Linked DNA regions of Homo sapiens: all the other regions are linked to region 3. The links come from fine-mapping of genetic effects on gene expression. A gene starts in region 3. Each other region holds a variant in brackets. All regions are shown on one strand. Distances are from middle to middle.

Region 1 (10,637 bases), 140 kb after region 3:
TATAGATTGGGGAAACGCATGTCCAGAGGGTTGAGCCCTACTCAGCCTCATCTGGGTACTGACTGGGGGCCAGGACTCAGGTCCAGCCAGTTTCACAGCAGAGCCTGTGCTCTTGGCCATGATGATAATGGCACTTTCCCACCCAGTCCTTTTTTTTTTCAAATTTATTTATTTTGAGTGCTGCATTCTCTACCTTTTATAGTTAAGAATGTTTTCAAGGTCTGGTGGGAGGTTTTCGTGTTTTGCATCCATGAATGCAGTCAGTGTTTGCCTGTAAATAGGGAGGGTCAATTCTCTTGGGCTCCTCTGCTGTGCACCTCATTGCCCATAGAATGCTACTCTCGGATCTTGCACTAGAGCACTGGATGATGAAGTGAAGCCTTGCAGAGACCTGTGAGTCTGGGTGAGTGAGCTGGAACCATGAATAGTTCCAGAAGGGGAACTTAATCCTGTGATATTTCTTCTCTGTGTTTGGTAAAGCCACTGCACCTTGTGCCAACTGTTTGCATCTGGCTTGCTGTTTAACCTGGCCAACATGCCAGGTACAAACTGTGCTTGGACTTGTCCTCCTTCCTGGAGCTGCCACCTGCTGTGTCAGGGACAAGCCCCTGCCCTGGCCAGTTTTCTTCTGGATGTATCTGCCATGTGATTCCCAGGGCTTCTCAGAGCTGCTGCTGCTGCTGAACACTGCTGTGATCCATAGTGACCAGGGAGTCCCGGTGCCTGATACTTGGCTCACCTCCCTGTTCAGCCCTACTGATGTAGGCAGCTCTGATGTGAGGTTCTTCAAGGGCCTCACTCCTTGTTTCACAACCATCCTGCCGCTTCTCAGGGAGCAAAGCTGCCCAAGGGGCCTCCCTGCCTTCTCTTTTTCTGCATAACTGATTTTTTTTTTTCAGATTCCTTTAGGTTTTTGGCACATTGATGGCACCTGTTCCTAGTTTGCTGAGCTGTGGCAGGTTTTCCAGGCATACTGGATTTGTTTTGATTTTGAAGCAGGAATCTGGGCAGGAGGGCATTGCATGCCTGAGCTCTTGTTGCCATGGTATTTGTAAATGGACAAATGTAAATGAAGCCAGTGGCAGCATCCTTCTCCCTCCACTGCCCATGCTCCTGAGTGTGGGAATTGGGGGACAAGTCACTACTTCTTCCTGACTTCTCCTTTACTCACCTGCAAGTTAGCCACATCTTCCACTTTCTCCCTTATTCCCCACCTCAAATACAAAGTCCTAGGAGAAGAGGACTGGGAGCACTGGATTTGATATTGAATTGGAGAAGACCATTACAACCTCAGATTCTAAGATTCTGTGATAGCATCTGTCCTGGTGATCTAAGTCGGGTTAAACTCAGCTCTCTTTTAGGAGATCAAGAGGTTTTATAATATAGGTTGGGTCCCCTGCCAGTTCTTCTTACATATCACACAGTCTTAGTTTGGGGACACAGTTTTTGGAAGCCTGTCTGCGGGGGTTCTGGAACTCAGGGGTGGATGCAAGAAAGCAGCATTGGTTCTTTGTCACGAGGTGAGAGCAACAGTGTCAGGAATAGACTCTGTGAGCTCACCCACCCTCAAGGGGCATCGACTTCCAGTGCATCACTTTCAAGTTCATCTGTGTCTGGCCATAGGCTTGGTCACATGCTGAGGTTTAGTGCATGAACCATCATGTCTACTGAGGTACCTGACACTCCAGAGGCATTCAATATGTTATGCAAATGGCCTTCATGCCCAGGCTAATTAGGGAGTCCCCATTGGACTTTGATTATTCATAAAAGACAGTTGATAATAAAGCCCTGGCTGCTTTTGAAAATTCATCAAGTAAGAATGCAGGGTTTTTCCAGTGGGAGCTCAGACAAAAAGCCAGTGGAAGGACACAATAGGATCAGTGCTGAACTCCCATGGTTAGTTCGCTCTCTGAGATGCATGCACAGACCTCTGCAGAGGCCTTGGGCAACACTGGTCCTTTTGTTCGCCTGGGTCCTTTTGTTTGCCTGGTCAGCAGAGTAGAGGGTGGTGTCCTAGTGAGGACAAAGGATTCAGGAAGAGCAAGGTAGTGTGGGTAGGGGCTGGTAAGGATGGCGAGTGGGAAGACAATGAGCAGAGCTTTGGAGAGCAGAGTTTGAAGTACTTGTGGGACACCAGGTGAAGACAGCCAGGTGACAGCAGGAGCCAGGTGTCCTCAGGCTCTTGCTAGTGCTGTGTCCTGGTCAACACACTTAATCTAGCTGAACTTCAGTTACCTTACCTGTATGTAAAATGAGGATGTTCATAGCTCCCTCACAGTGATGTTGAGAAATCAAGTAGGTAAACAAACATGGTATATAGCTTTGGGGGCCCACTGGTCTGACAGGGCGCTCAACCTGTCCTCTTTTTTTTTTTTTTTTTTTTTTTTTTTGAGACAGTGTCTCGCTCTGTCACCCAGGCTGCAGTGCAGTGGCGCAATCTTGGCTCACTGCAAGCTTTGCCTCCCGGGTTCACGCCATTCTCCTGCCTCAGTCTCCCAAGTAGATGGGACTACAGGCGCCCGCCACCACACCTGGCTAATTTTTTTGTATTTTTAGTAGAGACGGGGTTTCACCATGTTAGCCAGTATGGTCTCGATCTCCTGACCTTGTGATATGCCCATCTCGGCCTCCCAAAGTGCTGGGATTACAGGCGTGAGCCACCGTGCCCGGCCCTGTCCTCTCTTTCTTGAATGGTGCTCCTTCTAGAGCATTCCTTGTAACATGCATGAGGTGGTCTCTTATCTTGAAGACCCGCACCTGGTGAGGAGGGTGACAGACAGGATTCTGTTGTCAAGGAGGTGGTAGGAATGGAGTCCAGGGTGCTGCTAAGGGAGGGCCAGGCTGTATGGTCAGGTGGGCACAGCTGCATGGAGGATGCTTCAGGGGCTCTGGAGAAGAAATGAGTGACAGAGCTTTCAAGGACCACCTTCTAGGGGTGGGGCTTCCAGGCCTCCAAGGAGGGCTCTGTGTCTTTATCAGACCGATGGCTGCCCAGAACCTTTGGCAGAGGGGCTCAGCCTGCCTTGGTGCCAGTGAGCTTCCACACAGGAAGACTTCCTGAGGCTGGTGGCTTTCCATGAGCAACTACAGGGAGGAACCGCGGGGGTACTGGTGGCTCAGTAGCCTCTGCTTCCTCTGAGGGAATGGAGGGGTCAGTCCCTGGTGTGGGGGTCTCTTCCCTGTCCTCTGCTCATCATGAGGCTGGCTTTCCTCTTTTGCCCACCCCTTGGGCTGGGACCAGAGCACAGCCAGTCACCAGTATGGTGGCCCAGCACGGCAGGCTGTGCCTGTCTGTGTACACGCCAGCTCCATGAGGTGGAAGCTTTGGCAATGGGCTCCCAGGGAGCTTCCCCGCAGGCTTCTCAGGGGAATGTGTTGGGAGTAGATGCATGGAGAGTTCGTTTTTTCTCCCTTTCATGAATGAGAAAACGGGCAGAGAAATCACGGCACTCATTGGCCGATGTTTCTGTTGGTGCAGATTACCAAGGGTGCTGAAGTCAAAAGGAGTGAGCCACAGTCAGCCCTCTGGGTGGTTGACTGCCACTGGGGCCTTTAGACCAGGAAGGTGTCGTGACCGAGGTGGACCTGGTGGTGAGATGCAAGGTGTGGCAGCCTGATGCGGAGGTAGCAGAAGGGAGACAGGCCAAGTCAGGGCAGCCGGCAAGGGGCCCATCACAGAGCAGTGCAGGCGGGAGGCCACAAAGGCCTGGGCTGGGGTAACGTGGGGGCTGGAACCGGGAAGCTCCTTCACACATTGAGCCTACTTCTTGGGACTCTGTTCCAGTATATTAGTAATGTTAGGAATTTCAGTTTGGCTTTTTAAAAAGCTGTTTTTCCTTTGAGGAACTCAAATATTATTGGTTGAATTGTGTCTCCCCAACAGATAATGAAGTCCTAGCCCTCCGTACCTGTGAATGTGACCTTATTTGGAAATAAGGTCTTTGCAGATGATCAAGTTAAGATGAGATCATTAGCGTGGGCTCTAACCCAAAATAACTGGTGTCATATTTATAAAAAGGGGAACTTTGGACACAGAGACAGACATGCACACAGGGAGAATGCCTATAAAGATGAAGGCAGAGATTGCGGTGATGAATCTGTAAGCCAAGGAAGGACAAGAAAACTAGGAGAGAGGCCTGGAACACATGTGCCCTCACAGCCCTCAGAAGGAACTGACCCCAACGACATCTCCATGTCAGACTTCTGGCCTCCAGACCTGTGAGACAATGCATTTCTATTATTTAATCCAACTCAGTTTTTGATACTTTATGATGGCAGCCCCAGCAGACGAATTCACCAAGCTTCCCGGATCCCATTTCTTCACTCTCTGGAAAACTGCTCCCTCTGGTGTCTGAGAATCACACGTATGACCTCCCTGAGGGGCTCAGGGTTGGCAAGGCCTCCCCATCTGGGTGGTGAAAGGTGCTCTCTGGGCTGCAAAGAATCCAGACAGCTCTGTGAGCAGCGGCTGCCAATTCACTGACATTGACTGACTCTGGGGACTCTACCCTTTTCATCCCCATGTGCCCGTTTGTCCAGCCCCTGCAGAAACCCCTGTGGGGTCTGGCAGTAAGCGAGGCTGCTGTTCCAGGGAATGTGTGTGCTGAGGCTAGCCAGGCAGCTGGGCTAGCCTCCTCCTGCACAGTCCTTCTTAGGAATGTCCTAAGTACCTATTCAGCCCTGGCCTGAAGCAAAGGAGGCACTGGGTAATGAGGACTGGGACCCCATTGCTCATGGTCCAATTGGCGAAATGCCAGATTAAGCACAGATCACTTTTCAAAGTCAAAGGCAACGTGGTGAGTTTCTTTGGCATTAAAAGTCCTCTCCCATGGTTATCCCATTCTGAGTAGCCAGTTGTGTATTTATTCACCCAGCCCTGTGTTGCGGTTATTGTCTTTTGAGTGTTTGATTCTATCCCCTTTATATGACTCATCAGCCCCCAGAAAGCAAAGGCCCTGTCTTGTTCAGCCTGGCACAGGGGCAGCCGAAATTCCCACAGGGCTCACCTCCTTCGCCTCTGCCTGAGATGTCTTATCAGCGTCACTCTCATTCTGCAGGGGAGGAAACCAAGACTCCAGGGTGGAGTGATTGGCTGTATGTTTCACCTGCAGCCACGCGAGGCCCAGAAGTCTTCCAGTGCTTTGGAGGTTCACAAGAAATATGGTGACTCAACTGGAACCACATTAGAGGTCAGCATTTAACAGGTCCCCTCAATTTTCCCACAAGGGCCAGTCTTGTGTCCTCGGCTATGACCATGAGCCACTGGGGAAAGAGATGCTCTCTTCCCTGCAGCTGCACGGCTCCCCGTGCTGGGTTGGCCACACACTCCCCACCCAGTGCACCTCCGTTGATTGATTGACGTGGTGTTAAACATGTGGCCTTTTGCAGGCAACTCTAGGAGGGTGATGAGCTTTGCAAATCTGCCCAGTGCCTAAAACTGAACCACACACATAATTCACTCACACGCACTCGCTCAGTTGGGCGTGCATTCTCACTGCCATCCTGCCTCCAACTCACGCTTGACGCCTCACAGTTCTGGACTTCTCTTCTACCACACAGCAGTGCCTGCCCTGGCTGGCCAGTACTACATTCCTGACCTTTGGGTTTTGGGTCCCTGGGGGCAGCTTGCTGCCATCCGAACCACCAGGCCCTGGCCCTCAGCGAGGCTTCTCCAAGTGTTCTGCTGCCTTACTTCTGCTTTCGAAGCACCATGCCTGTCCTGGGGTGGAGTCAGAAGTCAGAAGAAGAGGCTGATTAGCCGGGGTGCCCTTGGAGGGGCCAGGGTCTCCTGATCTGCAGCCAGGGCTCTGCATTTAGGAAGCCTTGTCAGAAGCCTGCAATTGGCATTGAATCTGTTTAGAGTGCTCAACCTAGTGCCAGGAACTGTGGGAAATCTGAAGACATGATCAGTTTCCAGAGAGTCAAGACAACCAGCAGAGGATTCAGGTTAATAAACTTAGACTTGTGTTCAGCTACCTGGTTCAAATCCCCATTCACTGGCTTTGACCACAGGAGAATGATTTCACTTCTCTAAGCTTAATTTCTTTGTAAAATTTCACAAGGTATTATGAGCATTAAATATGATAATACATGCAGAATGCTTTAGTACATTGCATAACACATTGTAGGCACTAATACATCTTACCTTACAATACTCTGGCCTCTCCTCTCCACTCCCATACAAGCGAGGACTCTTAGACAGTGCCTGTCATGTGCCAGACATCTGTAAAGGGATCATATAAGCATTAACTCATTTAATCTTTACAGGAACTCAGGGAAAGACTGAGGCACAGACTGA[C/G]GAACTTGTCCATGGTTCCAAGGTGCAGAACCAGGGTTAGACCTAGACCGTGAGGCTCTTGCATCTGTAGTCTTGCTTAGAGCACTACTTGCAAAGAAGCCTTGGGTAACTTCCCTATACCTCCATTTCATCATCTCGAAAATCTAGATGATGATGATACCAGCTAGGATCCTCAGGAAAGTTCCCTGAACTTCATTAAGGGCTTAGAATGATGCCTGGTGCATCCTCAGTACAGAGTAAATGCAGTGGCTTCAATAAGAAATACAAGTACACAGGTGGCCAACAATTCAAGCTATTAGATGCAGAAGGCCAAGGAGGTGATCCAGCTCTTTCATTATGGGGAATCAGAGCATGCAGATCAGCAGGGGCTGGGTTATGAGAGATGAGGAGTGGGCTGATCCAAATGAGAGGTCAGCTTGAGCAGAGGGGAGGATGTGGGAAGGCAGAGAGTGTGGAAGCCATGTGTTGGGAGCAGGGTCTGAGAACATCAGGTTGGGGACAGCCCACGAGGGACCTTCATTAGCAGTGTGGATTTTCACCTGCACTCTGTCGGCAAGCACTGAAGGTTGTCATTAGCACACTGGCTGTCACAGACCAGAGGGGCTTCCCATTCAGTCAAATCTTGCTGCCCATCCCCAGTGAACGGAGCAGTAGGCAGTGAGGCGGGACCGGCAGGGCGTACAAGATGCTCGCCCATTCCCTCCATTTGAATTGGGCTTGGGACATCCCAAGGGGCTGCTGCCTGGGCCCTGAACACATCTAAGGGCTATGGGTTTATGGTCTTTCAGCTGCTGTTTATGTCACAAATGCCTGTCACAGAAGGGGCATTAAAAATAACCGAATGGCTAATACCATTTCTCAAAATAACTACTTGCAAAGTGCTTTGCTGGGGCAAATGGCTACTAAAATTAGACTCCCTGGTGGTATATGTAGGGTGTGTGTGTGTGTGTGTGTGTGTGTGTGTGTGTGTGTGTATGACTTCTAAACCCATTTCCCCCCAGGGTGAGGCCCACAGTTTGCACCCTTTTGTTCTGTGGTCCCTTCTGTCATAGCTGGGTGTCCCAGAACAGTGTTCACCCAGTCACCCCAAGATGCCCTCTTTCATCCTGCAGTCCTCAGCAAATTGGAGCCACTGCCCTACATTGCCCTGTTGTCCTGCTCTAAGGAGCAGAATTTTGAAGAATCTTGGAGGGCGGGGTGGCCTCATTGTAGCAGTGGCCTAATTCCTTGGTGTGCCAGGTAATAATAGCACGCCGTGGGGGGAATCTCACTCAGCATGCTGTCCGAGGGGAAACTGGGCCATGGAACAATGTGGCAGCCCCACTCAAGGTGACCTAGTAACTGAGGGCACGGACACACGATTTTCCAGGCCCCAGTTCCAGATCCAGGCTCTAGAACTCTTCAGTGGTCTCCTGGGCCAGTCCTTTGGGCCACCAGGCAACCAGGTCACTCAAATCCAATCAACTCTCCATCCACTAATAATACAAAAGGAAATGTGGGATCTTAAGAGCAAGTTAAGAAAACAAAGTGAATCAGCACTGTGGGGGATTTTGGATTCAGGACAAACAAAACCTGAGAGCCAGCGTTGGTTTTCTTTTAGATAATGACTTGCACGGAAAGAGGTGGACCTCAGTGTCTCCATCTTTGAAATGGGGGAACACTGAGTTATTTAGCAACCATTTATTGAGGGAGTGCCTGATGTGGGCCTGGCTCCTACAGTAGGGCTGATTAGGGCTCCTACAGTAGGCCCTGGAGTTACAAAGAGTGGTTCAAGGTAAAAGCAAGGTCAAGATACATTTACAAGCCAGTGTGTTGTCTGTACGTGGCAGCCCTATAAGGACTGGGGTTCTGTGTGGTCCTAGAGATTTCGGTCCTGGAGATGAAAGACTGTGAGTATTTACCTGGAATGGAGGCCCAGGGAGGAATGAATTTCCCTACTCCTGTGAGAGCTGTATGTAAATAGACTGTTTCTGTGTTGGAAAGAGCACAGGCAGAGTCTGTGACTTTAGGCAAACTGCCTAATTTCTTTTCAACTGCTAAATGTGAATAAGCACAGCACCAACCTCCTAGGTCTATTGTGAAGATTAAATGACATAACCTAGTGTGGTCTTAGCGTGTTGTAGGCACTCTACACACTCTATCGTTAGTAGTAGTCATATTAATATTAAACTAGCAAAAACTGTTTGCCCAAGAAGTTCCAGTAAATCATTCCCTTCAATCAGGGTGATGATAATTTTATTTTTTAGTATTATTAAGTCATTGCTGTCTGTAAGGCCATCAAAGAGCTGGAGCCACTTGCTGGAATCAGGCTAGGTCAATTTCTGAATGCTGGAATGAGGTTGAGGGGAGTGAGGTAGAGGATACATTTTTAAAAAGTTTACATGTAATCAAACCCTGGTCATTCACATCTCCTGTTAGATTCATTATGGGAGTTGGATATTTAAGAGGAATCTTTGCCACAAATTCATGTGTAAACCCAATAATTCTCGACTGTTAAAAGTGGTGGGAGCCCTAGATATTAGGATATAGGGTCATTTAACCCCGTGGTTCTCAACCAGGCATGATTTTGCCTCCCATGAGACATTGGCAAATTGGGGTGGGTGCTGCTGGCATCCGGTGCGTAGCGGCCAGGGACACTGCTCATCTTATAATACACAGGATAACCCTCCTCAATAAAGAGTAATCTGGACCAAAATGTCAACAGTGCCGGGGTTGAGAAACTCTGTCCTAACCTGAAGATGAGACAACTGACCACCAGGAAGGGGGAGTGACTTGCTGAGGTTAGGCAGCACAGCTGCACCAGAGCTGGGATCCAAAGTTTGAATCAATTGACCAGAGGCCAGAGGCCAGACAGAACCTTGATACTGTCATCTCACCTGTGAAGTAAATTATCAACCTCACCCATGTGAATGAGGCCTTACTCTATAGTATTTTCAAGGCTCTTTCTCTTGTGATATTAAGCTCTGCTTTGGAAAAACCAGGTTTTCCTATTCTGGGCTTGCTGATAGAGTAAGGATGGTAGATTCAGCAAATGAAAATAAGGTTGTCCAGGCCAGGCGCGGTGGCTCACGCCTGTAATCCCAGCACTTTGGGAGGCTGAGGCAGGCGGATCACCTGAGGTCAGGAGTTCGAGGTCAACCTGGTCAATGTGGTGAAACCCTGTCTCTACTAAAAATACAAACAAAATTAGCCGGGTATGGTAGCGGGTGCCTGTAATTCCAGCTACCAGGGAGACTAAGGCAGGAGAATTGCTTGAACCTGGGAGGCAGAGGTTGCAGTCAGCCAAGATCGTGCCACTCCACTCCAGCCTGGGCGACAAGAGTGAGACTCCATCTCAAAAAAAATAAATAAATAATAAAAAATAAATAAATAAAAAGAAAATAAGGTTGTCCAGTTACATTTGAATTTCAGATAAGCAAGATAGGTTTTTGGTTTTTAGTTTTTAGTTTAAGTATGCCCTATGCAATATTTGAGACATACTTATGCTAAAAAATTATTTCTTGTTTATTCTGAATTTCAAATGTAACTGGCACCCTATCTTTTGTCTGTCAGCCCTGTGAGCTCTACCCATCGCCCTGAGATCACAGGTAGGCCCTGGGGTCATCTACCCCTGTCTGAGGCTCCTGCAACCCTTATGACCCCCTCTGCCTAGAGGGGGAAGATGGGAAGGGGCAGGTGGGCCTTGAGTGGAGCAGGCATTCCTAGCTCCTGGCCTGTGGGTGCCTGGGAAGAGCCGGCTAGCCACACTGGGCTAAAGGGCCTGTAAGTTGAGAGGTTGGCCAAACTGTCCCTTTTTATAACAGGAGAATGGTTTAAATGAAGTGTCAGCAGGTGACCTATGGCCCTGGAAAACCAAGTCTGGAGAAGTTGTGGCAACTTTGCCCCTGATTGGGGAACAGAGTGTCCTCTGCACTTCTACTGGTTTCCAGAGAACATGGCTGCCCTGGCTGAGGAGCACTTGGACATGGTACCTTCCAGGGCTGAGGTGCTGTCTCCTCGTCACCCCTGGGCTCTGGGCCTGCCCCAGGGGCCAGAGTTGGGCGGTTGTTCCTAATACAGGGGGAAATGATGGGCAGGGCTGTGCACCCACAGAGCTGCTGCTGAGCCGGCAGCTCAGCCTTTTTGTTTAGAAGAGGCCTAGATGTGGAGCCTATCAACAGATCAGAAGGGGATGCTGGCTCAGCTGCTCCCTCACCTTGCCTTATCCCACACCCCTTTCACCTTTGCTTCCTTACCAGCCCAGACACCAGGCTCCAAACCAGTCAGTGCTCAGGGTCCGGCAGCCAATGGCACAAGGTGGGTGGCCCACTGCCCTGCCCCATTCCCTCCGCCTCCCAAT
Region 2 (10,637 bases), 290 kb after region 3:
AGATGAACATTGTTACATGAATATTGCAAGAAATTTGTGGATCTCTTGGGGACCCTCCAGACCTAGTTTTGAGAATGACTCATATAAACAATTTGCAGAGTCTAATTCATATACTCAGACTAGGGTTCTGAATTCTTTTCCCCCTGGGAGGAAGGAAAAACAGAGGATAACATTGGTTATCTGGGGTAATAAGAAAGCAAGGGGCAGACTACAGCTGCCCTAAGATCTGAGATCTGAGTGACAGAGCCTAGTTCAGGGAGGGGCTGACATGCTGCTGAAATGGGCTTATCCAGCCACACTCAGAGCTCTAGTGAGTATCAGGGTCATTGTGTTCTAAATCATCTGTGGCCAGCTTACCAAATAGGCTGGAGTCTGGCAGAGAATATCTATAGAATTTTCCACAAATCAGAAATTCTGGTTTCCAGAAGGATAAACTTCCCCAAATATCCTGGTGGTCTTGAGTTAATTGTGGCTTCCTGGGAGTTTCTGTCGTTGGTAAGGGTCACATTTTCATTGTCCCTTGACCTTTAGTCTTCTCAGAGTTGACTGGTAACATTAAAATGAGCATGTCTTCACTTCTGTCACTTACAAAGCTCTTAAAAAATTTATAATACTTTAAACATATCACAGTAATAAAAGCAATCGTATCTCTTTACATTGTTGCAGTCTTTTGGATAAAGTCCCCTGAAAGCATTGTCCTGGTGGTTTTCAAACTTTTTTCTTTGATCTTTCAGAATCTTTGTTCAAATGACATCTTGGCTAGACTCCAACATATAGCACAGATAAAAATGGAGTTGGGACTGCAGGGAGAGAAAGGGTGGAGCCCAGCTCACTGGACCTCTGCCTCCACCCCCAAACCACCCTCTAGCCTTTGAGTCAACCACTGAGTCACCGGTGAGCAATCCCTGTGGTTGCCCAGAGCATCATCCCACTAAGTCCTCATAATCACCAGGCATGATTGTGAGGTCATCACAGTGAATTGGTGCACCCCTGGAGGTAGGAAGGCAGCTGAAGAGGGGAGAGAGACACCCTCCCCACCCCCATATGAGGATGGTCTGTGATGATATGCATGCAGGGGAAGGGACTTATCCAAGGTCCCTGATAGATAGGGACTGGAATTTTGGCAGTGTCTTTTCTAGAGTAGAACAAATTTATCAGTTGAATTTGCTGTAGTTCTCTGAAGGTTTCTTTGGCCACATTAGAATTTTTGAGCCCTGGCATCCAAGTAGGCCAACTTCAAAATGGCTGTGTGCTCCACTCAGAGATTCTGCTGTGAAGACTGGCAGGAGATTTTTTAGCCTATTCTGAACTCCAACTGTTCCAGTTCCTCTTGCTTTCCAGAGGTGTGAGCACCTGGAAGCCCCTGCTCTGGTCTACACCCCAGGCTCAAGATTCATCCTGCTCACTCAGCCACTCATGCTGTCACCAGTGATAAAACTGTAAGTGTCAGCAGTTGCATTTGATTCTTGCACAAGAAATAGTTACCCTCTAAAGACTTGTTCATTCTTGTGCCTGTAAAGTGTGGTGTGCCCTATGCATCAGTATTCTTGCCTATGAAATGGGCATGTAGGCTGGGCACAGTGGATCATGCTTATAATCCCAGCACTTTGGGAGGCCGTGGCTGGTGGATCACCTGAGGTGAGGAGTTTGTGACTGGCCTGGCCAACATGGTGAAACCCCATCTCTATTAAAAATACAAAAATTAGCCGGGTGTGGTGGCAGGCGCCTGTAGTCCCAGCTACTCGGGAGGCTGAAGCAGGAGAATCGCTTGAGCCTGGGAGGCAGAGGTTGCGGTGAGCCAAGCCGAGATCGTACCACTATACTCCAGGCTGGGTGACAGAGCGAGACTCTGTCTCAAAAAATAAAAGAAGAAATGGGCATATAAATAGATCTACATAAGACTCACTGGAAGTTTAGAGCTCTTTAAAAAAATGGACAACAAAAAGTTTTTCCAAATAAATGTTGATTCTGGGCCTGGAAAGTTTGAGTGGCTGGCTTCTCAGAGACAGTTACTACCATCCATGCTCTTTAAAGTTCCATTGCTCTTATTCTAACCTTGAAATCAAAGAAACCAAAGCTGTGGTTTCTTGTCTGACCTTGGCTAATGATTTTCTGATTGACTCTACATGCAAAAGAACTGCTGATAAGTTTCTTATAGGGGAGAAAAGATGATGGGGAGAAAAGGAACTGAGTTCATTTCCTAACCTCAGTTTCCCTGCTTACTCACCCAGTGGGTTGGGAGCCACTTGCTGGGTCTGAGTTTCCATAATCACCATAGAAATGGAAGTAATATTATCCTTTTGCCCAGTCGATGGGAGGATGGAGGAATGTCTTAGTCTGTTTGGCCTGCTGTAACAAGATACCATAAACTTGGGGGGCTGATAAGCACATTTATTTCTCACAGTTCTGGAGGCTGGAAAGTTCAAGGTCAAGACACCAGCAGATTTGGTGTCTGGTGAGGGCCCGCTGTCTGGTTCATAGATGGCACTTTCTTGCTGTGTCCTCACATGGTGGAAGGGGCAAGGCAGCTCTCTGGAGGCTCTTTTATAAGGGCATGAATCTCATTCATGAGAGCTCTGTCTCCATGACGTTATCACCTCCCAAAGGCTTCATCTCTTAATATAATTACATTGGTGATGAGGTTTCAACGTATGAATTGGGGGTGGGCAGGCATAAACATTCAGAGCATAGCAAGGAGAATTCAGGGATTGCATTAAGAAAGTAAGTTGCTGAGCAAAGGGACTCATCTTCAAAGTCCAATACAATCTTTATAATCTTACAAAAAGCTTTCCTGGTTTTAGAATTAGCTCCAAGGAATTTGGCACTAGATTTTAGATTTGCTCAGAGAAAGAGTGTGAGAGAGAGAGGGATGTGGCTTTTGTGAGGAATTCCAGCACCTTCCTTTGCAAAGATATGCCCTAAAGAACAGTGGCGGCCTATCCTCAGGACAGAAGCACTTAATTTTGTCTAATTGTGTCAATTTCTAGGAGTCATTGGGAAATTCAGCAGCTAATGAAGATGGCCCTGTTCTGTCAGGTCCCTACTGGAATATTTAAAATTCTGTTTTTCATACTTATCAGCTAAAAGAATTACAGAAATATATTTCTGGATCCTGTGGGGAATAAGAGCAGAAATATACAAAGCTTCTTCTTTCAAGACGGATCCCAGCAGCCCAAGCTAATGTCACAGTTGTGTTAAAGACTATTGATTCCAGCAGGTTCTGGGCTGGGTCTCAGCTTCCCAGGACTGTTCCAGGCTGACCTCCTTTCCCTGGTTCCATCTTTTTTTGGGACTTCTGTGGGCCTTCATTCAGCATGTGGCTTGCGGGTGTCCAGGTCTGCAGGCATACACACCTCTCCTGATCTGAATCAGAGAACAAAAGATAAAGGATCGAGGACAATGGCCTCTTCACTTTTGCTTTCTCTCTTCTTTGGGTTTTACTTTGTGTTTCCAACAGCCAATGGAAGGCTGTTCTATTTAGGGTAAATGACTCAGACTTGGTACATCTCGAATCGTATGTCAGAGCACACTGTTGCCCCTCAAAGCTCAGGAAAGGCTGCATACTCTATCTCCCTCTTGATGGTTTCCTCGTATTTACAAGTTAAAGACCATAGATGTCCTGTAGTAAAGGGGTTAGCTTGCCTCTGTTTATCCCGGTGATTCTAGTGAAACTAAAATGCTTGTTTCTATGGGGCACAGTCCAGATGTGTTGTTCACTTGGATTGACCAATCCTTTCAATAAAGTTTTGATGCAACCATGTGAATCCCAAGTTTTCAGCACTTAGTTTTGTGACCTTGAGCAAGTCACCTAATCATTACATGCCTCAGTTTCCTCATCTGTAAAAGGGGATAATAAAAAGCATCTACTTCACAGGGTTGCATTGAGGATTAAGTGCTTTAATTAAGGTTTTAGTACAGTTTCTGAAATATAATGTATTCTATATATGGTAGCTATTATTATGTTAGTATCCATTATTATTTGCTGGAATCTTTTAACACTGTGCTGAGTGTTGGTACTGTCTTCTTATCATGTCATAGAGCATGGGGTAGTATAAGAATCCTACCTTAGGTCAAAGGTCACAAAGCCCTATTGTTTTATTCCCAATAGTCTTACAGGGAAGATGCAGTTGTCCTTGTCTTATGGAGGAAGGAGGTGAAGCACACCCGAGCGGTAAAGAGGCCCCTGGTCACACAGCCCATACAGGAGTCAAACCCTGGCCTCTGGCTGCAAGCCTGCCATCCCCAAGCGTCTCTCTAAAGCTTCTTGTCAACCAGCCTCAGACAGGGGCCCACAGACACGAACCTCATCTCAGCGTTGGTAGGAGGCACCTTCCACTTGGATTCTCTTCATGTGGTTAAGAGAGTCCTGAGTTCCAATCCTAAGTTCACTCGTCTCTACCTCCTTGCCTTTGTGCAGGTTACTTAACTTTTCTGACCATCAGTCTTCTCTGTTGTAACATAGGGATGGTAACACCCATTTCTTATGCATGCAGTGATGCTTAATGACATAATGTAGGTGGGGTTCATGCACAAGGCCTGGTATATGATGAGTGCTGGTAAATCTTAGCTCCCAATGACACTGTATCAGGCTCTGTGCTAGGGTGCTTTACGAAAATGATCTCATGTAATCCTCACAACACATCAGGATATTGGTACTCTTCATTTTACAGATGGGGAAACTGAGGCTCTGTGGGATTAAGGGACTCACCCAAGGTCATAAAGCCAGATTGTGACATTGAGATTCAAATCTTGGCAACCTTACTTTCTGGAAACACTTTCCCCCTTCCTCTTCTTTAGACCCACATGCAGGCTGCTTGCAGACTCTGTGCTTGGCCATGTTTCTTGGTCAGCAGGGCAGTCGGGCAATGGGCATTTTAATCATGTTTATGCTGGACAGGGCTGTCCCTTGGGCTTGAGGACAATGTTCTTGAACCAGAAGAATATGGCAGAAGTATAATGCCATTTCACCAGGACAGATGCATCAAATTCCATCTTGGGTCTGGTAATTCTGCCACAGATGGTGGCCCATTGATATGTGCATGCTTGGCTGGGGTGAGAGTCTGTGCCAATGTCACAGGACACAG[C/A]AACCCCAATGAGTCTGTTTACTTATTTAACAGTCAAGGTGACCAGAAGAGACACTTTCCAACAGGACACAATGAGGAGGTACCCAGCAAGTCTTCTAGCTGATTGGGGGAAGAAACCCAGTGTATTACAGGAAAATGAGAGAGTGCATTTGAATTTGTTTCTAATCTGAATTTTCCATATAAACTCTAGTTAGCAGTTTCAAAACTGTGGACGCACTTCAGCCTAAGGGACAAAAACAAAACAAATGACCCAAGGTACCAGCTGCAAGATGCTGGAATAGGAGGGAGGGAGGGAAGGCCAGTGAGAGGGCAAGATTATTAATATGCTTTTCTTACTAAATTGGCTTTCAGAATCAAGGGGAAGAACCAAGGTGGGTTGTTAAGGGAGTACTGATTTAGATGTGCTGAGCAGTTGAAATGTTTTTGTTTCTCAAACATGAAAGCACTTGGCTTTGCATGACTGGGTTTTAAATTGCTCAGCAAAGCATCACTTGGGGCTAACCTGAGTCTGTGAAGTTCCACAATTCAGGAATGATGGTTACTGCAGCACTCTTGTGTTTCAAGGTTCGTCATGAAGACTAGCATAGATTCCACTGTTCAATTAAAGCAACGTTTACCATGATATTCCTATTTTCCATGATGCAGGGTCCTGGGAAGCATCTCTTTCAGGAAGGGAGTATGTATTCAAGGTCAGTCAGTATATGAATGTGTCTGAGACTTGGATGGCTCAAGGGGATAGAGCTAGGTGTTATCTGGCAGTCGCAAAAGTGAGAGATGATGACAAGGCCAAGGTAGGTAGGAGAATGGGGATCCCTCATTCATTTATCCCATCATTATTTATTGAGCACCAACTGTGTCCCAGGCATTGTTCAAGGTTCAAGCACAAAGCCGTGTTCAATGGGTTCAGGTAGAAACATGCACAGTTACATCACAACAGAGTAAACCATGGGAACTGCATGGTGCAGAGTAGGGGGTATTTGCATGGCAGTTGAAGACCTGTGTCGGACGCTGATGCTTCTATAATAACCCAACTTGGTTCCTCTCCACTTTTAGAGCCAATTAATTAGGAAAAACACTTTCTTCCTTCCCTCTCTGTCATTCTATGTTGGCATTTGTCCCCCTTGGGTTGATGGGCAGACACAGGTATGAAACCCATAACTTCATCTCTCTGGGATTCAGTTTCTGGGCAGAGTGGGCAAGGGAGGCCAGGGTCTTCTAGACTCACTAAGTCAGAAGCATCTCCTCCTGATCTTTGGTTTAATTTTTCTTTTGAAGGTACTCAGTCCATGATTTCAGATTAGGGAGGCACCACCTGGCAAAGGGGGAGCCTGACAATGCAGGGCAGTTCTAAGTACCAGGCTTGGGACCGATTCTATGGAGATATGGTAGATGGGACTACCCTCAACTGAATAATGTGTGAAGAGAATTTAAGACCATGCCTGATACATAGAGGGTCCAGTGAAAGTTGAAGGCAAATAACCCTGGTAAAGAAGGCAGGAAACACAAGGAAGCCATTCATTTATTTATTATTCATTCAATCAACAAATATTTCTTAAATATTTATACCAACAAAGCATGGAACCTCTAGCCAAACTCTCTGGTTTCAAATCCTGGCTGTTTTACAATATCTGTATAACCTTGAGCAAGTTACTTAATTATTCTCTGTGCCTCCATTTCTTCATTTGTAACATGGGAATAATCAAAAAGAATAAATGAAGATTGTTATGAAGACTAACACATGATTGTTATTATTATCTTTTTGTTCATTTATTTAGCTGTGTCCTTAGTCTGTTGCTTGATTGGTGTGGTGTTGGGGATGTGGCCAACGGAGACAGGAAAGGTCTCCGTCTTTACCCACCTTATATTACAATAGAAGAGTCAGATTATAAAAAAATAATAAATCAATAAATAATACTTTAAGGTAGTGATGAGTGATGCAGGAAACAAGAGAAGATGATTGTGGAGTGAGTGATTACTACGGGTGAGGTCCAATGATAGAGAGGACTAGTGAAGAGGGAAGACAGTCAGTCTACACAAAGATCATCCTGTTGAAAAATATGAAATATGCAAGTCTTTGGAATTTACCCAAAAAAAAAAATAGAGAAAGCATTTCTTGAGTTTCCAAGAGAGGCAAGCAGGATGAGCCACCAAAAATAAGTACGGTTAAATAAAGATTGATTCTGGGACCAAATAAGCTTCAAGATAATTATTTCTCATGGTAGTGAATCAGTATGTCTCACAAATGCATTCATCTTTTCATGTTTTCAGTACCCAAGGTCCTTGATGGATGGATTAATCCTCCTTTTCACCTTGCTTCCTTCACCTGATCCCTCACCTCTCAATGAATTGAAATTAAGGACCGTTCATTTGGAAAAACCTATTAACTCCCTGCTTGTCGATGGCTTACTTTCTACTCAGCCTGGCTGGGTTCCACCTCTTAGCTCGTGAGCCCTCACGCAACTCTGCTGTCTCCATTAGTGTCCCTTGTGGGCTGGTGGCCGAGGCAGTTAGGCTTATGAATATTCCAGTTGCTCCTGTAAATTTCCAGCATCCACTGTTAGGCAGGACATGAGGCACTAAGGGATGTGCATCACTTCTGGGCTGGGGCAGGGGATGCCTGTGTGTGGTGGTGCAGTTGCTGTCTTCCCTGATGGCACTGAAGAGACTGTGGCTTCCAGGGTTGCAGTGCAAGATGGCGGAGCTTCTGATGCCTAGGCCCATGAGTGGGCAGGTGGAGCAGAGCCCAGGCTGCCTTTGTCTTCATAGGTCTCTAACTTCTTGACTTCTCAATAGCCTCAATGACTGGTTCCTTCCTGTATTTGGTAGGTGATTGAAAACCTCTTAACACATGAATTATTCAGTCTTGGCTAGGCCTTCTCCTAAACAGTTGTCTCTGGTTCTTAAAGTTACCTTTTCCTCCTCTCTAAAATAACTTACTTACCTTTTCCTGCCACGGACACTATGACCTCTTGGTTTTATTTTCTTGATTGTATTTGGCATTCTCTGAAATTGTCTTATTTGTACATTTATATGGGATTTGTGTCTCCTCGCTAGAATATAACTCTTATCTATTTATACTCCACTGTATCCTCAGTGCCTACAGCAGTATCTGGTTGAAAGGGGTGCCTGATAAAAATGTGAATGAAATGAATGCCAACAGCCAGGAAGGCACCTCATCCCCCTCCCCTCTGCCACCCCCTTTATCAGGGCTGGGCTGTGTCAGCTCATTGAGGCAGTAGGGAGTATGGTTAGGATGATGGACTGCCCGGGCTCAAACACAACTTCCCACCTGTGTGATCTTAGATAAATTCACCTCTCTGTGCCTCAATTTCTTTATCTATACAATCAGGACAATGGCAATACCTATCACATGGATTGTTTTTCAGTTTAAATGAGTTAATATACATAAAGTCCTCAGAAAATTATCTGATTCATAGTAGGGGCCATGGAGGTATTACCATTGTCAACAGTTACTGGGGAAGCAAAGGGCCTGTCCTCTCTCTGGTAACCCCCCGACCCCCTTCAGTCTCTTGAGAACCCGGCCTCAATGCTCACCTGGGGTCCCCTGGGATCCATTCAGCAAGAAGGTTCAGCCACACCAAGCCCTGTTCCTTAAGCCCAGGAGACATAAATCCACAAAGCCTACAGGAGAGATCCCTGAGGAAAGTGGCTATTCTGGATGGGGCCAGAAGGTTCTTTCTCAAGGTCAAAGCTCTCGGAGACCTGATGAGGCCCTGCCCCTCAAGCTTCTGTCCTTTCCACAGCCCTGCAGCATTATTTCCATAATGTTATTAAAAACCAATGTGTGCTGGCCAGATGAGTGACACTTCCCAGTGATGGGGCTCGGCTCTGCTCCTCCAGGCATGGAGAACTTGTTCAATTATGTGCCACCCCGTGATGGGCCCAATCACAGTACACACATTAGCTTCTGATTATACCCTTGTTGAGTTTCTCTTGACAGGAAGGAAATGAATTTACCTCGTGTCACCTCTGTAGTTTGCAAGCAGGCATGGCTTCTGATAATAGCACCTTTCATGTTTTGTAAGACCAAGGAGAAGCATTCGTGTGGTGGCCAGTCCTTGGTGACCCTTTGTCTCAGCCTGGAGGTGAGCTTGAGCTGATTCTTCATGGGAGTGTTTACTCCTGGGGCTTGTAGGAATCTGGCTGGGGGTTGGGTGGTCAGCTGTCCCATAAGATTGTGGGCCTTGGCCACTGCAGCATGCACATCCCTGAATCCACACTCTTATGGTATCGAGGCCTTGGGCAAATGACTGAATTTCCCTTGACCTTCCCTTCCACCTGTAAAATGGGGACAATGATAGTAGTTATCTCACAGGGTAGGCGTCAGATTTAATGAGCTAATAGATGCAAAGCCCTTGCATGTGCCTGGCATATAATAAATGCTACATTGTGTTTTTATCATTAAAATTATCTTAATATTATTTTGCTGTTGCTGTTATTATTGCTGTTGTTATTGCTTAGATTGGAACATGTCTTTGCTATTTATAACTGTGTGACCTTGAACATATCACTTAGCCCCCATGTGCCATGACATTTGTAAAATGGGGAAAGAGGAGTCTGTTCCTTGGTGCAGCTGCAAGGATGTCAGTAGGTTGGCACAGGAAAGGCCTTTGAAGCAGCATCAGTGCAGGGCAAGTGTTGTGGGTTATTATTGGTGACTTGCTCCCCTCACCAGAGGGGTCTTTTGGGTGCTGTGGAGCCAGAGGGGTCTGTCCATGGTGGGTTAGGATTATGCACTTAGGTCTTGCTTTCCATTTGGGACAGTAAGCATCTGAGAGAAGAGTTTGTCCCTGACTATACCAAATTCCAAGTTCTGCCAAGGAATCCTGGGGTAGGCCAGAAAGGGAGGCAGGAATGGAGCCAGTGGTGGACCCAGCGTTTCCTTCCAAAGCTTTTAGACTCAGCTGCTAAAGCCAGTCATGAAGTGGACGTGATTCCTGAGGCAGGGCAGCAGGCCCCTCTCTCACTACCCCCTTCACCAGCCCCAACCTTCAGCAACTTTTCCTGGCAGGAGACCACATCACCATCCCCTCCCCTTCCCATCACAGGCATTTCAGAACACAAGGGGATCTGGGGGACCCACGTCTAAGGAACTGTGACTGAGAGCCTGGGAAGGGCTTTCTCTTGACCTGGGAGAGGGAAAATTAGGCAAATTGCTGTGTTTCTCCACTGTAAACCTGAATGGGAATGAGGGAGGAGGGAGAAAAAGCCAGACAAAAATGGAGACACATGCAGAGAGATGGAGAAACAGAGAAAGGAGAAGGAAAGAGCTACAGAGATAAGGAAATGAGAAAACACTGAGAAATAATTGGGAAATGAGACAGACAAGCTCATAGAAGGACTTAGACCCAGAAAGGGAAAGTGGAAAATTATCTTGACAGCTAACACGTATTGAGAAGACAGTATGTGCCAGGCACTGAGATTAGTGTGTGATATATCTCATTTAATCTTTGCAACAATTCTATGAGATAAGTGCTGTTGTCAACTTCATTCTACAGTGAAAACAACGGACATACAGAACGGTGAGGTGTC
Region 3 (10,637 bases):
AATCTAACCCTAATTTTGCAGAAATACACACCCAAGGAAAAGGTATGAGATAAATATATAAAAATATTAATAGTGGTTATTTTGGGGTGGTAAGATTCTATGTGACATATTCTTTTTTCTTGTCACTGACTTGAAGCTTATATGAAACTTTTATATTCCAAAGTTTATAATACATATGAATTATTCTTACAAGCAGAAGTAAATATAAAATAAATATCTATAAAAATGTAAGCATGTGAAAGCTTGTTCTGTAAGTCCCACTCTCCAGCATTATAAATTACAAACAGATAAATCACTTCAGAGGTAACAGACTTTCCTTGTCGTGCCAAGTAACCTGGCAGAGCTAAGCCTCAGTTTTCTCACCTGTAAAGTGGGAAAATAGCTACAGCCTTTTTTTTTTTTTTTTTTGAGACAGAGTCTCGCTCTGTTGCCAGTTGGAGTACAGTGGTGCGATCTTGACTCACTGCAACCTCCATCTCCCCAGTTCAAGCAATTCTCCTGCCTCAGCCTCCTGAGTAGCTGGGCTTACAGGCATGCGCCACCACATCCAGCTATTTTTTTTTTTTTTTTTTGAGATGGAGTCTCGCTCTGTCGCCCAGGCTGGAGTGCAGTGGCGCAATCTCGGCTCACTGCAAGCTCTGCCTCCCGGGTTCACACCATTCTCCTGCCTCAGCCTCCCAAGTAGCTGGGACTACAGGCATCCACCACCACGCCCGGCTAATTTTTTGTATTTTTAGTAGAGACAGGGTTTCACTGTGTTAGCCAGGATGGTCTTGATCTCCTGACCTCGTGATCCACCTGCCTTGGCCTCCCAAAGTGCTGGGATTACAGGCGTCAGCCACCGCGCCCAGCCAATTTTTATATTTTTAGTGGAGATGGGGTTTTGCCATGTTGGCCAGGCTGGTCTCGAACTCCTGACATCAGGTGATCTGCCCGCCTCAGCCTCCCAAAGTGTTGGGATTACAGGCGTGAGCCACCGCGCCTGGCCACTACTGCACTTTTTTACTTCACAAAGAGACTGTGAAGACCAAGGGTGGTTAGAAAGAGGGATACTGCTGACTTTAAAAGAAAACACAGTGGTGATTCAAGGAAGGGCAGGGTTACTGGTGGCAGTAACAGTTGAGATCTGACATCAAGTCATAGTAATAACATGAACTTTGTTAGCTGCCTTTATCCACAACAGCTTATATGCTGGTAGGACTGGTAACTAGATAATTCATACTGTTGAAGCTGTAGGGTTTTGTTGTTTTTTTATCAATTTTTCTTATTTTTTTAAGTGACAAAAAGTGTGTTTATGGTGTACATGATGTTTCAAAATACACATACATTGTGGAATGGCTAACTTAAGTAAATTAACACATGTATTACCTCACATACTTATCATTTACCTGTGATGAGAAGACTTAAAATCTCTCAGTGGTTTTCAAGTATACAAAAAAACATTGTTTATCCACAGTAGTCACCATGTTGCACAATTAGATCTCTTGAAATTATTCCTCCTGTATAACTGAATTTTTGTATCCTTGGACCAACATCTTCCTGATCCATGCCTCCTTCCTACTCCCTGTAGTTTTTTTTTTCCAGCAGGGTTTTCCTCTTGGAATTTTCATATCTCAAATTTCAGACTGTTAAATTAAGTCCCTTTTTTGAACATTCATGAAATAATGTCATGTGCCAGGAAAATCCACCAGAGGGCGCTAGATCATTTAAAGAGTCACCACCTGGCTTCTCCATCGCAAAATCGCGAAGATTGATGTCAGAGTATTGGAACTAGGTCCAGGTTGGAGGAAAAGAAAATCCATTGCACATTAATTGCGATGCTGGCCAACATTTTAGCAAATAATCTTTTTTGTTCTCCTTTTACCTTAGTCACTCTGCTTTTTTAGTATGTATGTTTATGCACTTCCTTTTACTTCTTTTAAATCAGTTAGGACTGTTCAGATTAGAATATTTAAGCTTGAAACCTCTGATTTGCTTTGAGAGCTGCCATAGACACACATGCACATGGTACAGAGGCTGCCCTTCTCTCTGGGAAGCTTTTGAATGAATTTAGAAATAAAAATAAGGCTCGTGGTGTTTTCAGAACAGAGGGTGAAGTTTCTACTTCTGTTGAGACTTTCAGTTCTTGTGCAATGGACCTCAATTTCCAGCCTGCAGACACACCTACATTAGGGGAAGATGTGCTGGGCTTAGAGTGCTTCTCTATACCTTTCCCATTTCCAAGGCTGTCCAGGGACTGGCAAGAAAAGGAGTGGTGTTGGGTAGTCAGAGAGCTCATTTAGGCTGGAGGGGCTCTGCTGTGCCCTGGAGTCTGGCCACAGTCTGGCTGTGGACATGCTGTGGACAGCATGACATGCAGGCATGTGCACATACAATTACGAGCTCAGGGGTCAGAAGATCTGGTTAGACTTGCCTGTCCATTTTTGGGGTCACAGTAATTATAGTTAAGATCTGTATAATATTTCCTTCCTTCCTTTTTCTTTTTTCTTTCTTTTCTTTCTTTCTTCTTTCTGACAGTTTCACTCTGTCATCCAGACTGGAGTGCAGTGGTGCAATTTCGGCTCACTGCAACCTCCGCCTCCCGAGTTCAAGCGATTCTTATACCTCAGCCTCCCGAGTAGCTGGGATTACAGACATGTGCCACCATGCCCAGTTAATTTTTGTATTATTAGTAGAGATGGGGTTTCACCACGTTTGCCAGGCTGGTCTTGAACTCCTGACCTCAGGTGATCCCACCGCCTCAGCCTCCCAAAGTGCTGGGATTACAGGAGTGAGCTACCATGCCCAGCCTTCTTTTTCATCCTCACATATAACCCTTCGAGGTAGGCAGGGAAGTTTCTGGCTTTATTTTGATTGTATAAATGAAGAAACACATCAAATCAAAGATACCTAAGGTTCCTTTTAAGTTTGAGGTTCTGTCTGTGCAGAGCCTTTTCCTAAATTTGTAATGCCAGGGGCCAAGTTTTCTGGAAGTGGTGCAAAAGTTTGTGAACAATGTGGAAATGGCCAGAGAGAACTGGGCAAAGGCCTGGGAATGTCTATTTCTGGTGGATGGTAGCACTCTCTCAGTGCTTACCAGCCAGGCCATTCAGGGAGGAGGTGAGAGACTGGGGATTGTAGGAAGGAAAGGATATTGACATCAACACTGAGAGTTTCTGATGATTCCTGACTAAGCCGAGGCTTTGGACAGCACAGAAGTTGCTAAAAGCTTCAATCAGCAGAGGCAGGGGTGATGAAGAGAGCAGGAGATGGCATCTGAGGGGCCTCCAAGCACCCTCTCCAAAGATGCTGAGGTGATGAAGGTGATGATGGAGGAGAAAAAGCTATAGATCCTGCAGTTGGGGTGACAGAAGTCACGGCCATCGGCTGCTTACCAGTAGACCCCAGACTGGCATTTCAGGGGAATCCAGGCTGTAGGGAATGTCTAAGAAGGCCCCAGAGGGGATTTGCTGGTTTGCAAAATTTCAATTTTGTGGGTGAGGGAATCCATTCTGGAGGTTTCATATCCCACTGGGGAGACAGTCCTATCCTTTGCTGCCCTTTTTATGTTCTGGGTGTTTTATTTTTAAATTTCAAATCTTGGCCTTGATTTAAGGAATGTCCTTAACTTTCTTGGCATTGCTGAGGCACAAAAGCAGCAAACTACAGCCATTGAGAGGCTAATAAAGGAACCTCAATGCCATAGTCACCTTCCTGCGCATCCCCACAGCACTTCTGGGTCCCGCTCCCCCAACCCAGTACCAGAAAAGGCCCAGGGCCTTTGCATGCTTGGGTCTGGTGTGGCAGGGATGCATTCAGAGTGGCTGAACACAGAGGCCGAGGTTGGAGGTACTATGGGATGGTATGGAGAGGAGGCTCAGACAATTCCATTTTCTGGAGCACACTTTCTGCAGCTCCCTTTTACATACACTTCTTTTTGAGAACCAAATACTCAAGAACTCTTACCTCATTCCATTTTCTCCTTTGACTTTGGCCTTGACTCTTTCTTAGTGGATGTGTACTCTAAACCCAATGAATGTATTCCGAATCAAGCAAGAGAGAAGCTTCAAACATCCTCTTCAGCCTCTCTGCCCAGCTCAGCCTCCCTTGCTCGCTCTTCCTTCCAGAGACCTCCAAGGACAAGGGCAGGGCTGATCTGACTCTCACGGAGACAGCCTCAGGTGTAAAGCTAAGGATGCTAACTTGGGCCTTTTCCATGGGAAGAGCTGAAAGGAACCTGAGAATTCCAATTAGGCTTAAACTAATGAGCTGGAAACTTTGGGGAAACCACTGCAGCAATGAGGGAAGAGCGTGATCATCCTCGATTTAATTAGCGCTGGAAAAACTTGGGGTCCAGCTGGTAGCACGAGGACGGACGCTGTTCAGGGGGCGCAAAGTTTCTGAAAGTGTCAGAAGGGGGATTCCCCTGGTGGTGTACGGAGACACGCTACGGAACAAACACGGACTCCTTCTTCATCTTAAGTGGGGAGAAGGGAAGACCCTAAATGGGGAACGGTGAGCCAGAATGAAGTCTGGAGTCCCTCTTCCCCCATCTGCCCTCCTCACGGGATGGATGGAGTCTGAGACTATATGAGAGGAAAGCAACCCTTCAGGGAACTCTATTGTCTATCGGGGCCTGCACTATCCCCAGGCCAGGTCGTCCTTGATCATTTCTGCCTACTCTTTGTTGGGCAGCCTCTGTTGCTAATAAGGAAAAAGGAGAGAAACCACCTGCTGCTGTCAGAGGCCACAGACCACCCGCTGGCCTTCCTGACTCTACCCTCCAGCCACACGCGGGACCCTGGGCACATAGGTAGCAGGAAGAGCGAAGTAGGGGTGGGTAGCTGTGTGTATCCTGGCGTGGGGTCCTCCTCACTCCCGAAGCCCGAGGGTCCTGGGGAGCTCAGCCTGTGGAATCCAGTTGACAGCTGGCCACTCCTCCCCTCCCCACTGGGGGCTCTTTGGGGAAAAAAACGGCCTGACCGGGGCGCCCCGCCGTCCTCCCAGTGTACCCCACCGCTCTCGGCTGGGGGCGCAGCACCTTGGAGAGAGGCGCCTGGCCCCGCGCCTGGGCTGGGGGCGCTCTACCTTGCGCCCTGGGGGTCAGGGGCGCTTGCCGGGCCGCTGCCGAGGGGCCCTGCCCACCCCTGCCCAGCCCGGAGCCCAGGCGAGCCAGCGCGGCGAGCCTCCTCCCCTCCCGCCTGGGTCGTCCTGAGTCCGCGCCCGCTCCAGTTGCTGCAGCTGCTGCTGCTGGCGGCTGCGGGGAGCGCGGGGCGCGCGCCGAAGAGGCTTGGGCGGCGAGGACGGGGACGAGGAGGAGTCGGAGGCGGCAAGGAGGAAGAGCGAGCGGAGGCCGAGGGGCTCAGCGGCGTGGCGACAGGACTAGGGGGTCCCGAGAACATGGGCTAGCAGGCGGCCACGGGCCGGCGGCCGGACGCGGTGAACCTGCCGCGGCCGGGCGCGCACTGGCGCGGCGAGCCGGAGCCGAGCGCAGCCGGGGGAGGAGGGCTGGCGCAGGGGCGCCCGGGCGGAGGGGGCCGATTATCCATTATTAACGAGTTACCACCTAATAAGCGGAGAGCGGCTCGTTAGCCGCGCGGGAGGCGCTCGGGGAAGGGGGTCACCGGCCGAGCGCAGCGCACACCCGTGGCGCACGGCGGGCGGCGCGGCGCCGAGGACACCCGGGACCGCGCGCGGAGCCGGGGCGGGCCCGGGGGCGGCGCAGACCCCGGGCGCGGGCGGCCCGCGGCGCCCCCTGGCTCTCGGCGCTCGGGGCCAGCGCAGCCCGGGGCGAGCGGGGCGCGGGCCGGGGAGGGGGAGCTGCCCGCGCACTCCATCCCCCTCCCCCCCGGGCGGGCGGCGGCGGCTCGCTGTATATATCTCGGCGCACCCCGCCAGGTCGCGCACAGCGCCCCGAGCCCAGGCGCCTCCCCGCCCCCCTCCCGCGCTCCGCGGCGGCGGCGGCGGCGGCAGCAGTAGCAGCAATATGGCTGTTGATGGGTGTTTGGGGTGGCGCTGGCGGCGGGAGGAGCTCCCCCGAGCCCCTGCGCCGGCTGCCCGTTGCTAGCTATGGCAAATGGTGGCGGCGGCGGCGGCGGCAGCAGCGGCGGCGGCGGCGGCGGCGGAGGCAGCAGTCTTAGAATGAGTAGCAATATCCACGCGAACCATCTCAGCCTAGACGCGTCCTCCTCCTCCTCCTCCTCCTCTTCCTCTTCTTCTTCTTCCTCCTCCTCTTCCTCCTCGTCCTCGGTCCACGAGCCCAAGATGGATGCGCTCATCATCCCGGTGACCATGGAGGTGCCGTGCGACAGCCGGGGCCAACGCATGTGGTGGGCTTTCCTGGCCTCCTCCATGGTGACTTTCTTCGGGGGCCTCTTCATCATCTTGCTCTGGCGGACGCTCAAGTACCTGTGGACCGTGTGCTGCCACTGCGGGGGCAAGACGAAGGTAACGCGCGCCCCGGGCGCCCGCCCTCTGCGCCAGCCCCACCGCTTCTCGGCGTCCCCTGCAGCCCACCTCCTCGCTCCGCGCCGCGCCGTGCCTCCCTCCATCCCCGCCTGCCTTCCCCTCGCCGCCTTCCCTTCCCTCGGCTCTCCCGGTGCTCTCGGATCGGGGCAGCGGGCGGCGCGCCGGGGGTGAGGAGTTGCCCCCAGCCAGTGCGCTCCGGGACGCGGACGCTCAATCCTGTCCTCTTGTTTATTGTAGGGTTGTTGGCGGCTGCGGCTGGGGCCGGGGTCGGGGACTCACAGGCTCGGGTGCCGTGGTGCGGGGTGGGGACAGCCAACTCAGCGGGGACGGAGGAAGCTGGGGGCAGCTGGGTGCGTGTTTTGCACCGCTCACCTGCCGGGGCTCGGCTCCTGGCGGTGGGCGAGAGGGAGCACATCCGCCCATACTTTAGGAACCTGTTGGGGAGATGAGTTCGTGGGGTCAGAAAGAAGGGAAAAATCCTTTGGGCAAGGGAGAGAATAATTTTGCACAAGGGAATCCCGGGGGAGGAGCATGGCCCGAGATAACAGGGGGACTTCGAGGGGCGAGAGAAGTTGGGGAGATCCATCCCACTATTGGGGGTAGCCCACGGGGCTGCCACTTTTGGAATGTGTCGAGGTCGCATATCTGATGTAACCTCCCACTCCGTCCCTTAGGTGCTCTAGTGGAACATACCCCAAGTTCTTCGGCCTCTGTTCCTTTGCCCCCAGGCCACCCACTTTGGGTCCCCGGAAATGCCACCAGCAGCGCGGAGCTGGAGCGGGAGTCCGCCTGAGGCCGCGGTTTTACGCGGAGCGTCTTCCCTGGCGCTCGAGGTGGCTAGATGTCGTCGGCTTTAGCTATTCCTGGTGCAGACGCCCACCGGCACTGAGGCTGGCGACACCTTCGATGTATGGTTGCTAGGCTCACTGCCTGGTCTGTAGTCGTGTCCCTAGAGATGTCTTCCCTTCCCCACAGCCACTGGCTGGAGTGGGGGACCCGACACTGATAGAAAACTGCAGAATAAAAAAGAAAGAACTGGAAAAAAGAGAGTGAGCCAGCTGCCTTCTTTCTGAGTAATTCCCATCCTAGGGGACTTCACGCGCGAACCGTTTTGGAGGGAAGGGAAATCCAGGGGAATAGTGCAGGGTAGATACACATTGCAGCCTCCACATGTTCACATCTTTTCTAGTAAAGTTAAACCGAGGACCCCTCAAACTTCTACAGGGCACAGCAACTTGTAGCAGCCTCCTTGGCGGCTGAGAGAAGTAGGGAAGCCTGGGGCTATGGGTGAAGGCTGGCTATGAAAACACCAGGGGGGAAGGAGCCTGTCTCTCCTGATCATTAATTATACATCCTGTTGGGTGCTGGAGCTCAGCTGTGTTTTGTGGCAGCACATTTGTGTTTTGGAAAATACTGGTGTATTGGAACAAAGGGAGAAATATGAAAACCATCATTCTCTTCGTCATTCTCTGGCTTCTCCGGAGGCCTGCAGGTGCTGGTCGGAGAGTTTTCTTTGGAATTACCTTCTCAGCCGTAGAGGTTTCTTCTTATTTGTTAAGGAGGCAAACCTCCCACCTTCCAGAGAAGCCCTCAGGTTAAGCAAAGCCCTATACACCAGATCCCTGACTAGCCTTCCTGCTGAGAACAGCTTATTCCTGGAGCCTTCAAATTCCCACATTCCCTCTCTCCATCCTTCTCCTCCACCTCCCCCAACAGTCTCGGGAATTTTGTTCCCCGGTTTACTGAGATTCAGCGACTGTCTTTAGGGGAAAGATAGCTCATAGTTGTGTGCCTCTGAAATGTTCCCTAGATAGAGTGATCTGGGTGAACTTTTTAACAGCTTGCTTTCTTTCAGGCAGGGGGCAATTTTTATCATAATGAAAACTTTTTCCATGATTGAAAATAAGTTGTGGTGTTTTTGTGAACCTGGGGTCCTAAACACAGCTTCCAAAGTCTTTTTATGTTAGGGGGTACATAAATGCAATTGCAGTGTCTGTAATGAAATGCTAATCCCATCGCACACACAAAGGATCTCCTAAATGATGAGCAAGCATAACTTCTGTCAGTTTACTCAAGAAAATAGGTTTTTGGCAACGATTAGAAAAAACAATTCGTAAATATTTGGCTATGTTTTGTAGCCCCAAGACCTGCTGAGTGGACATAACTGGAAGTGAGTTGCTGTAAGAAATCTGCCAGGGATGAGAGGTGATGGTGGTTTGTTTGGAAGATGTGAGGCCAGTATAGAATGAGTGCAGGTTCCTTTTGATACCGTAAGTCCATTTTAAAGCACACCTAGAATCTCTTGATACCTGCCCCTAGATTTGCTCACTTAAGCCATAGGTAGCCAGCTCATTATATGCAGTAACGGTAAGTTAGGCCTTTTAAAAGCTTTTCTTTCTATGCTTGAGGTCTGTATTTTTATTGCAATTGTGTGTGTGTGTGTGTGTGTGTGTGTGTGTGTGTTTGTCTTTTTTTCTTTTTTCTTTCCAAGTATTTGGTAGTTTTGTCAAGACTCGATACACAGGCATGTATTTGGCTTAAGCTTAGAATAATAATTTTTGTGCTAGATTTCCCAAGAAAACATAGGCTGCCTTTCCAGAAAATTCTACCAGCCCTCAGATGGGTTCACCCTCACCCTCCTTCAGCCCCAAGATGGTTTGATCAAGAGCTGGAGTCCAGAGGAAAGCAGGTCTGAAATTCTGTGGGAGATAAAATTCAGCAAGGAGCTCCAATTTCATGAGCGTTTGGTCTCTGGGATCGCACCAAACCTTTTTGATCAAAGGAACCCAAGACTGTGGACATGCATCGTGGGACATCTCTTCATTAGTACCTTTGGCCTCTGAATCTCAAACAGTGAATGACTTTAGTCTTTTGAAAAGAGTGGCATGTGGACTTTTTCAGAAAGTGAAGAAGAAAACATTACAATTTCCTCCTGTTGGGAACTTGGTCACAGTCATTCCAGTACTGTGTTCTTTGCTGTACTTTTTCACATTATTGTTTTTTTCCTTGTGGGATTTCATCAGAGCTCTCTATTCACTTGGGTGTGACGTTGTGAAGTTCAATCCTGTCATAGACTATATTGAATAGGGAGCTGCTCTGGTAGCCTGAATAAAGCCATGACTTTGAAGAAGTTATTTAACCTCTCTGGTGTCTATCTTTCCTTGTGTATAAAATGTGGGGATTGAATTCTGTGAGTTCTAATGTCCCTTCCTGCTCTGTGATTCGATATAGGAGAGAGGGAGGAGTTGAGGAATGAGGGTTAAAGTTTCTAGCTCAGAATGTGTTTTGCAGTTCCCTAGCAATTCCTTTAGGAATTCAGCCTTGGGACAGTTACATATCTTTATTTCCATCTTCTGCTCGTCTTCCAGCATGTGGTCTACTTCTCTTTAAATAACTGGGGAAACTGAGGCCAACTTCCTGTTGGAGCTGTGGTTTGTTGAGGGGCCTGAGTGTGGCTGGGCATAGAGTTATTTCCATTCTCAGTTTGAGCTGTTGGCCTTGTAGAAGCTTGGGCTTGATCAAGGATGGTCTGCGTGTAATGAATTATCGAGATGTTGTCTCCATGGCTGTGCCTGAGAAAACAACACGTTTTCTCTGTCAGGCTCGTGACTAATATAAATATCAGATCCCATTACAGCTTGGTAATTACCCAGGGTCTGGCCTGACGCAGTCAATCAGGGCTGGAGCTTCAGTGCCGTGGAGCTCTTGATTCCAGATTGGCCCTTGTGCCTCATCTCATCCTGTCCTGGGGATTGGCTGCACCAGATGACCTTGAGATACTCCTTTTTGAGCAGATCACTTGGGGTGGCCTTGGAGGAGTTCTTGGGTCCTAGTCACGGGGGAGCTCCAGCTGACCTGCCCTTGTCCAGAGAGCTCGTGCTCCTCATTCCTTGCTCTCTCTCTCTCTCCTTTTATTAATTTTTTTTTTTGAGATGGAGTCTCGCTCTGTCACCCAGGCTGGAGTGCAGCGGCACGATCTTGGCTCACTGCAGCCTGCGCCTCCTGGGTTCAAGCAATTCTCCTGCCTCAGCCTCCCAAGTAGCTGGGACTACAGGCGCACGCTGCCACACCTGGCTAATTTTTGTATTTTAAGTAGAGACGGGGTTTCACCACATTGGCCAGGATTGTCTTGATCTCCTGACCTTGTGATTCGCCCACCTTGGCCTCCCAAAGTGCTGGGATTACAGGCG

Alleles and levels. Alleles are on the strand shown, and positions count from the first base shown. SD is a standard deviation of normalised expression in the study named. Not every link is listed here.
For the expression in skeletal muscle of the gene that starts at base 5,883 in region 3, allele G in region 1 goes with a lower level than allele C (small effect, 0.25 SD a copy in GTEx).

What was found.
Region 1: its variant is fine-mapped to the expression of KCNMA1 in skeletal muscle (GTEx, PIP above 0.99).
Region 2: its variant is fine-mapped to the expression of KCNMA1 in fibroblasts (GTEx, PIP 0.94).

What each region holds. Positions count from the first base shown.
Region 1 is chr10:77,488,350-77,498,986 of GRCh38, reverse strand. The region is part of intron 1 of KCNMA1 (potassium calcium-activated channel subfamily M alpha 1); the gene reads left to right. Among named protein-coding and RNA genes, the nearest start is that of KCNMA1-AS3, 140 kb to the right of the region's middle. The variant C/G (reference allele first, on the strand shown) is at 6,299.
Region 2 is chr10:77,341,131-77,351,767 of GRCh38, reverse strand. All of the region lies in intron 2 of KCNMA1 (potassium calcium-activated channel subfamily M alpha 1), which reads left to right. It overlaps KCNMA1-AS3 (KCNMA1 antisense RNA 3), which reads right to left and starts at 896. Exons shown (of 6, transcript NR_126365.1): 1 at 358-896. RefSeq lists an enhancer at 295-1,494. The variant C/A (reference allele first, on the strand shown) is at 5,085.
Region 3 is chr10:77,633,054-77,643,690 of GRCh38, reverse strand. KCNMA1 (potassium calcium-activated channel subfamily M alpha 1) reads left to right here and starts at 5,883. Exons shown (of 28, transcript NM_001161352.2): 1 at 5,883-6,426. The coding sequence starts at 6,049.